Linked DNA regions of Homo sapiens: regions 1 and 2 are each linked to region 3. The links come from fine-mapping of genetic effects on gene expression. A gene starts in region 3. Each other region holds a variant in brackets. All regions are shown on one strand. Distances are from middle to middle. Region 1 overlaps LMBRD2 (LMBR1 domain containing 2). Region 2 has its middle 21 kb from the start of UGT3A2. Region 3 holds the start of LMBRD2 (LMBR1 domain containing 2).

What was found. PIP is the estimated chance that this variant, and not a neighbour inherited with it, causes the effect. A credible set is the group of variants that fine-mapping cannot tell apart.
Region 1: its variant is the best candidate, but not a certain one, in a credible set for the expression of LMBRD2 in whole blood (INTERVAL, PIP 0.89).
Region 2: its variant is the best candidate, but not a certain one, in a credible set for the expression of LMBRD2 in fibroblasts (GTEx, PIP 0.76).

Annotation. Positions count from the first base shown.
Region 1 is chr5:36,121,580-36,124,349 of GRCh38, reverse strand. LMBRD2 (LMBR1 domain containing 2) reads left to right here. Exons shown (of 18, transcript NM_001007527.2): 7 at 85-159; 8 at 1,389-1,502; 9 at 1,887-2,070. Among named protein-coding and RNA genes, the nearest start is that of MIR580, 25 kb to the left of the region's middle. The variant A/G (reference allele first, on the strand shown) is at 1,146.
Region 2 is chr5:36,086,917-36,089,686 of GRCh38, reverse strand. No RefSeq gene overlaps it. Among named protein-coding and RNA genes, the nearest start is that of UGT3A2, 21 kb to the right of the region's middle. The variant C/A (reference allele first, on the strand shown) is at 1,378.
Region 3 is chr5:36,150,611-36,153,380 of GRCh38, reverse strand. LMBRD2 (LMBR1 domain containing 2) reads left to right here and starts at 1,494. Exons shown (of 18, transcript NM_001007527.2): 1 at 1,494-1,825. It overlaps SKP2 (S-phase kinase associated protein 2), which reads right to left and starts at 1,270. Exons shown (of 10, transcript NM_005983.4): 1 at 1,111-1,270; 2 at 339-610. The coding sequence starts at 1,118. RefSeq lists enhancers at 964-1,153, 1,227-2,210 and silencers at 1,424-1,563, 2,164-2,223.

The DNA of each region.
Region 1 (2,770 bases), 29 kb after region 3:
ATATATAGTACCTAATGCATTCTCATTTGGAATATGTGATCTGTAGAAATGGAAATATTTTTATTTATTTTACTGTTTTTATAGGAGGTTCGTAAAGTGAATGAAAGCATCAAGTATAATCACCCATTGAGAAAATGTGTTGATACAATACTTAAAAAGGTAATGAAATCATCTTGTCTGTTTCCTTTTGAAATATACACTTATATAATATTATACCAAAAGTACCAGAAAAGTATGAAAACAGCCTATAGCTGAGGTCTTCTAAATTCATTTTCATAGAAATATCAACCCAACACCATTTGTACTTTGAATTTTTTTAATTACTGCAAGTTTAACACTAATTATTGGCAGTATTTTCTATTGAAATATGGAGATAGAGGTTGAGTAATATATAAGGATTGTCATGACAATGATGGAAATAAACCTTTAAAATGTCATTGTATATGTTCACTAAAGGCATATCTCCTATAAGAAAATAAACCAAGGCCTCAGTAATATCTTACAATCAGCTGCCTACACGTTATTTTACAAATATATTTCATTAATATATTCATGACATATATCATAAAATGAATGATGTTAACATAGACATTTAATAAACTATACTATATTTAACTATATTTATATTTATATATTTACTATATTTATAATAAACTTAACTATATTTAATAAAGTTAAGGTTTTGATGCATTGGTATTGAATTAGGGGTATTCATATACTTCCAAAAATGGTTATTTGCAGTTCCCCAATTGTCTTTTAAACCCACAGAACCATGGAAACATTTATTTTCCTAGATTTTAAATCTGTTATACTGATTCTTGTGTAGTGTTCTGTTTGGCTAAGATAATACTCATGGAATCACTTTTCTAACTATTTATCTCACATTTGCTACTTTTTGAGAACTACTAAGAGAGGTTAACTAAGTTGCCCAAGTTCATATAGGTAATAAGTGAGTAGTAGTATGGAAGATGACTTTAAATGCATGTATTTATTTCTCTGTGCTATGCCTTTCAAAAATTCAGCATCTTGGATTTGTCATGATTTTGCTTCATTCTTTAGCTAGAAAAATAATTTATCCTACTTAGAATAATCTTCTCAAATACTAGTTGCTTCCTGCAGGTAAGCTCCCCTGCCTATAGCCATCT[A/G]TACCTATCTGGTATATATGAACACAAAGATTAATATTATAAAGGTGAGAAGAAACTCAGTACATCTTTTAAGACATTTTCAAGAAAATATCAGCAAATGAAGTCTAACTAGAGATGACAATAAAGTAGGAAGATGTTTTTGAGAAAATTAGAACTGCTCAAGAATGAAAGATTTTTAATAAAAATAAATTTTTATCTTTTTACAATTAAGATTTTTAAAAATCTACTTTTTTTTTTTTTTAGTGCCCTACAGAGTATCAGGAAAAAATGGGTAGGAACATGGATGATTATGAAGATTTTGATGAAAAGCATAGTATCTATCCAAGTGAAAAAAGTCTGGTAAAACTGCATAAACAGGTAACTTTGTTAATTATAAGTATTTTACTTAATGATGATTTTAATTAGACTTCTAATCATTGCTCATAAAAAAAGGAATTTTTAGTGAATGTGTATTTAAAACTTCCTTTAATCCCGTCCTTATCATTCTTTGAAATATTTTATCTCTGTGTATACCAGCAGGGGTATTATTGGCGTTTGGGGAGGGAGAATTCTTCACTGAGCATAACTGTTACATTATATAAAACTGTTACATCATTTTGGAACATTAATATTCTCAGCCTGACCCAGTAAATGCCCTAGCACTTTCCCATTGTTATGACAATCCAAACATGCTCCCTAGTGGAGAGTTGAACCACTGTTGGATCAGAACACTGCCAGGTCTACCCCCATTCTCTTTTTTAGGTGATTTATTCAGTTCAGAGACACCGTCGAACTCAAGTACAATGGCAGATTCTTTTGGAACAAGCATTTTATCTAGAAGATGTAGCAAAAAATGAAACTAGTGCTACTCATCAGTTTGTTCACACCTTTCAATCGCCAGAGCCAGAAAATCGATTTATCCAATATTTTTATAATCCTACATTTGGTATGTAATTTGATATAAATTTCAAACTTTAATGATGAAAAGTTTTCTGTAGAAAGAAGTTATGTATTTTCACCAATGCAAAGTTGAATTTTATTTGTATTATTTGATTTATACCATGTGATATTAAGTATCTGGTAACATTTCCCCAAAATAACTGTTTTACTTATCATATAACATATAATCCATCAGTTTCCACTGTTACTTCACAAATAATAAAAATTCTATTAAAAAACATGTATACATCAAGCATATTTTTTATAATGCATAATATATACAATTATGCATTGCTTAATGACTGGGATTACTCTGAGAAATGTATTGTTAGGCAATTTCATCACTGCATGAGCATCATAGGGTATGTACTAAACCTAGATGGTATAGTACAGGTAGGCAATATGGTATGGCTTATTACTCCTAGGCTACAAACCTATACAGCATGTTACTGTACTGAATAGTGTAGGCAGTTGTAACACAGTGGTTTTTGTGTATATAAACATAGAAAAGATAATAGTAAAAATGCAGTATTGTAATTTTATGGGATCACCATTGTATATGCAGTCCATCATTGACTGGAATGTTGTTATGTGACACATGACTGTACTTAAAATAGTTAGAATTTTAAGTAATTTTACATCACAAGCTTGGGTCTCTTCTTCAGTCTTGACATACTACTGAAATATTTGCTTAAGTAGTCCTCTTT
Region 2 (2,770 bases), 64 kb after region 3:
AATGTTTCTCTGGGCCTAATAATTTAAAAAGACTCATATTCCTCAGATAAGCACTCTTTTCTTTTCTCATAAGTATTGGCAAGAATGTGAAGCAACTGAACACTGGGTATAAATTGGTAAAACCACATTAAAACGATTTTGGTAATATCTACTAAAGTTGAAGTACTCATACTCAGGAATTTTACTGTATATGTACATATATATATATATATATCCACATGTGTATATGTGCACCCAGAGATATGTAAAATATTCTTCATAGTAGCATTATTCATAATAGCCCAATCACAAACAACTCATTCAACAGAATGAATTTTCCTAAAAGGATGGATAAATTCACTGAATAAATGGAAATGAATTTGTTACAGCTATACAACAACATGGATAAAACTCACCAACATAATATGGATCAAAAGAGGCAAAACAGGAAAAAATAATCGAATATAATTTTATCTACATACAATTCAAAAGGAGGCAAAATAAAATTGTAGAGTTAAAAGAGGAATGCCTAGTGGTAAAAACATTTAAAACATCAAGGAAGAGATTACCATACATGTCAGGCTATTGCTTACCTTTGAGGGGGACCAAGGGATTAGTGATTGCAATGATGCACAGAAGAGCCTTCTGGATTGCTGGCTACGTTCTATTTTTTGACTTCGGTGGTGGTTTTACAGGGGTTCGCTTTGTAGTGAATTATTAAGTAGTACCTTCTTTTGTATGTGCTTTGCTGTATGTACATTTTATTTCATCATAAAAAGGCAAAACTTACATATAGAGAGAATTAAATTACACAACTCACCATATAAATTGGGAGTGGAGGAAATAGTGTTATAGTGTTTTTAGGTTGCGGTAATATTCAGAAAGAGGGTAAAGATATTGCTTAACGTAGACTTTGAGAAGTTAAGGACACTTGTTAGAACCTCTGCAATCATTAAAAGAATAGAAATGGGATATAGCTTTAAATAGAAGAAAGATAGAATGGTTTAAAATATATATCCAATATAGCCAAAACAGGAAAACTACCAAAACCTAAACTTTATTGTTTAGAAATACATACATAGTTGGGCAAATTATAAAGAAAGTCAAGTGAGGGGACTGACTATAAAAGTCAGTGCTTCCGATTCAGAGATATCACTCAAGGGGCAATGTTTTGTTTCTTCACTTGAATATTTTTTACAAGTATGTTTCTATTCATCCTTATTCACTATACTGTATATTTATATTTTATGCACTTTTTTGGATATGGGTTACATTTCAAAATTTGAAAGGTTTGTTTGTTTGTTTGTTTGTTTTGAGACAGAGCCTTGTTCTGTTGCCCAGGCTGGAGTGCAGTGGTGTAATCTCGGCTCACTGCAATCTCCGTCTCCTGGGTTCAAG[C/A]GATTCTCCCACCTCAGCCTCCTGAGTAGTTGGGACTACATGTGTGCACCACCACATCCAGCTAATTTTTGTAATTTTAGTAGAGATGAGTTTCGCCCTGCTGCCCAGGCTGGTCTCAAACTCCTGAGCTCAAGTGATCCCCCCACCTCAGCTTCCCAAAGTGCTGGGATTACAGGCATGAGCCACCGTGACTGGCCGCAAAATTTAAAAGGGTTTTAAAAAGGAAAATAAATTATTATAAATCACATTAATGGTGGAAAAGAGTAAAGTCACATGACCATCACAAATGGATGCAGGAAACATTTAAATAAAATTCAATATTTATTTATGTGTTTTAAAAGTCCTAGGAAACAAGGAATAAAAGTAAACATTCATTTTCTAATAAATGTTTATCTATTTATCTATCTACCTATAAGTAAATATGTATTCGTAAACAAGAACACAAAACTACTGCAAGTATCCTTAATGCTACATTCTTTCCCTCTGAGATCCAGAACAAGCCAAGGATGCCTGCCTTCACTACTTCTGTTCAACATTGTGTGTCCCAAAATAATAAGACAAGAAAAGAGAACTGAAAGACCTAAGGATAAGGAAAAAAAGAAACAAGCTTTTATTTCTTATGACATGGTTATGTATGTGAACAATTTTAAAACTACTAATTATTAAAATTGATAAGAGAGTGGTATCTCTTAATATGGTGTTTGGGAACTTTGGTTAAGTCAGTAAACCTGAACCTCAAACTCATTATTTGTTTAAAAAAAGAGAAAGGGGTGTCTTATCATACAATACTCCTCACGGTTGCTGTGAGGATCATAATCAGATAATGCCCTTGCAAATGCCAACCATAATGCTGCCCCATAGCAGGGACTCATTTGTTAAGAAACACTGAACATCTGCATGGTTAGCTCACCCTCTTCCTTCAGGTCTTTATTGGGAAGTCATTTCTCAGAGGGGACTTTCCTGCTTTATTTTTTTCTCCTTATCACTGCCTAATATACTATATACTAATGCTCATCTCTCTACTCAAATACAAGCTCCACAGGGGATGGTTTTTGTTTGTCTTATTTGAAGAATCACCCCTGCCTGGCTCATAGTAGATGCTCAACAAATTTGTGTTGACTCAACAGATAAATGGGTGCATTTCTTTAACTGGCAGGATCAACCAGGTATAAATGAGTGAATTTAGTGAGTCACCATCCTGCCCTGATCTGGGCTACTGCATTATAATAGGTACAGGTGTATTCATTAGTATACTAGACAGGGAGACCCTCGTGCTGCTTTTTAAACCTCACCACTTCTCTGTCTCTTCCCTGTGAGTTGGGGTGGGGTGGGGAGTACAGAATTAGTTAGAATTCGTAAGAAGGGTGATGGGGCACCCAAAAATCGAGAGAAG
Region 3 (2,770 bases):
GAAGACCACTGTTTATGTTTCTGTTAAACGGTGAAACTGAGCTGGCCTTGAGGCAGGCAGATTCCCTTCTAAGGAAAAAGGCAGGAATGTCTTCTCATGGGTTAAAATTTTCAAGGTGATTATGCACCAGAACATACATATATATATATATATATATATATATATATCTACCAAGATTCCTGCATACTTGACGACTTGCCCTATTTTGTTGAAAAATAGCTTCAGAATTAGGCAATCTTAAAAGGAACCCATGCTAAAGATCTCTGAACAAAGGTTTCCCAACAACATAGCTAAATCCACCCTTTGCATAACTGACATTTTTACCCTCATGTCCTTACCTGGAAAGTTCTCTCGATTTAGCTTAGGCCTGCGGACAATCACAAAGTCTTTGTCACTCCCTTTGCTCTTCAGCCGTTTCCGTGGGGGGCTCTCCGGGTGGCCCAGGTTTGAGAGCAGTTCCTGGGGGATGTTCTCACTGTCGGGCTCCTCTTTCTCCAGGGCGGAGACCCCCATGCCTGACAGCAGTTCAGAAGTCTTGCTGGAATCCCATCCCCACGTGAAGCTGGTGGCAACGTTGCTACTCAGGTCTGGAATCTCCTGGAGGTGCTTCCTGCAGAAGTGCACAATACCCCCGGTTCCTTTCGAAAACACACCCATAAATAATTTCAAGGCAATTAAAGAAGCTGCAGTTTATGCATTGTAGGAAACCTTCACAGCAGCTAACAGAATCGCATTTTTTATGTGCCTGCGGCGAGTTACCAAGAAAACGAAGAAATGAAAAGAACAAATCGAGAAGGCTTTTTGACTTACGATCCTGCAGAAGGCCTCAAGAATTTCTCCCAGTGGAGGGAACAGACAAGGAGAGAGACAGGGCAATCATACACTGATTGAAAACGGTGGCAGAAAAGCCCAATTAGGGAAGCCAAATAAAACCACACGCTGATCCCCGCACTAAGGCATCCATCCATTCACACTTTCCCCAAGAAGGGGCTAAGCAACCATTCACTTAACAGCATTACTAACAATATTAGCCAGTAGCGATATTCGCGGCCTAAAAGAATTATTAAGAGGGTCCATTTCATGCTCTTCCCCTTTTTGCAATCCGTTTACCTGTGCATAGCGTCCGCAGGCCCGGGAGTTTAAAATACGTGCATTAACTGCAGAGCTGCTCGCCTCCCAGATTCCCGCTTTGGCGCGCGGCGGCTCCGAGCGTGCTGCTCGGGCCCCCAGCAGCCAGACCCGCTAAGCCTAGCAACGTTCCATCCCCACTGCGCGCGCAAGGCTCTACAGCCCGCTCTGCTTCGCGGCCGCACTGAGGCCCAAGGCCTGCTGGGAATTGTAGTTTCCGTCCCGCTTCGTAGTCCGACGGGCTCGCCCTTACTTCCTTCCCTTGCAGCTTTACCCGCCTTCGAGATACCCACAACCCCCCGCGGGAGCGGGACTGGTCGGCCCACGGGGTAGGCGGGGAGGCGGAAGCGGGCGGCGCTACGGCTGACTGGGAAATGTCAGCCGCTGGACTGTAGACGGATTTTCCTTTCTCGGGAGCCCGCAGGCCTTCTGGTGATCGCCAGCGCTGTCGTCTCTGAGCGTGGATCCCAGAACCTGGACAGCTGTGGCGGCCGCCGTTTCCCGGTCCCGTCCAGACGCTGTCTGGCGAGATCGGACGGTGAGCCTAAGGCGGAACGCGTGAGGCGCTTTTGAGTCTGGGGTCCGGGGCCGAGAGCAGGCGGAAAGAGAGGGGACCCGGCAGACCCCGAGTGGCCGCCGCTGCGGGGCCCAAGTCCTTGGCTGCTGAGTGGTGACAGTAGCCCAGCCCGCCGGCCAGGTGAGAGGCTGCGAACTGCTGGCGTCGCACCTGTTCGTCCTTTTGCCAGGAAGCTTCTTCCTCCGTCGGGGAGAAGGCGGCCCTAAGAATTGGGTCTGTGGACGGGATCCTTCCTTTATCTGTAAAATAACGCACAACAGCTAAACACGCCGTTGGAACGAGAGACAATGGTTTAATTTTAGGGGAGCCGGAGACCCCAGCGGGTCCTGTGTGGTGGGAAGGCTGCGCATGCCCTTGCAGCCTTGACAGGTCTCATAAATAGCAACATGGGAATAAATGAAAGGACTGTATTTTGCAACGAGCTTTACCCGTGCACGCAGGGGGCCTCCAGCAAAGCCATTTGGTTGCTTGCTGTCGCTCAGCTGGCTACGTGTGTTTGCGTCGCCGCCTAAAAGCGAGCTGCTTTCAGCCTATCTCTGCTGAGAAGAGTTTGGGGGCAGTAAGAGTAGGGAGCGTGACATATTCCAGGTACAATGACCATGCGAAATCCATTGGGCAAACTATACTACAACTGTGACCCCGGGAAAACAGTGGAAGAGGGAAGGGGGATGAATTCTAAGCCTCATAAAAATGAAGATTTATAAAGTTCATAAGGAAGCATAACAGCTTCATCGCATATTAGAATATTCAGTGATGCTGTATGACACACCCTCTGGTTTCCTTGAAAAAATGATTCGCTCTGTAGTGAAATTAAACCTCCCTTGTGCAGGTATATGCTTGTTTCAAGCTTGGTCCTTAGCTTGAAAAGTAACTGCCTCTTGAGGAAGGAATTCATGAACCTTTAGCTCGTTCTTGAAAGATGAGATTGGTGTAAAGAAGGGATCTGTTCACAACTTGGTTTTGATTGGAACTAGGTGCAGAATCCTAGGCTAAGCCGTTCATCAAACTAATGTTATATGGAAAGCATTTTAAAATGCAATATCCTGATGTTTTACAGAAAGTGAC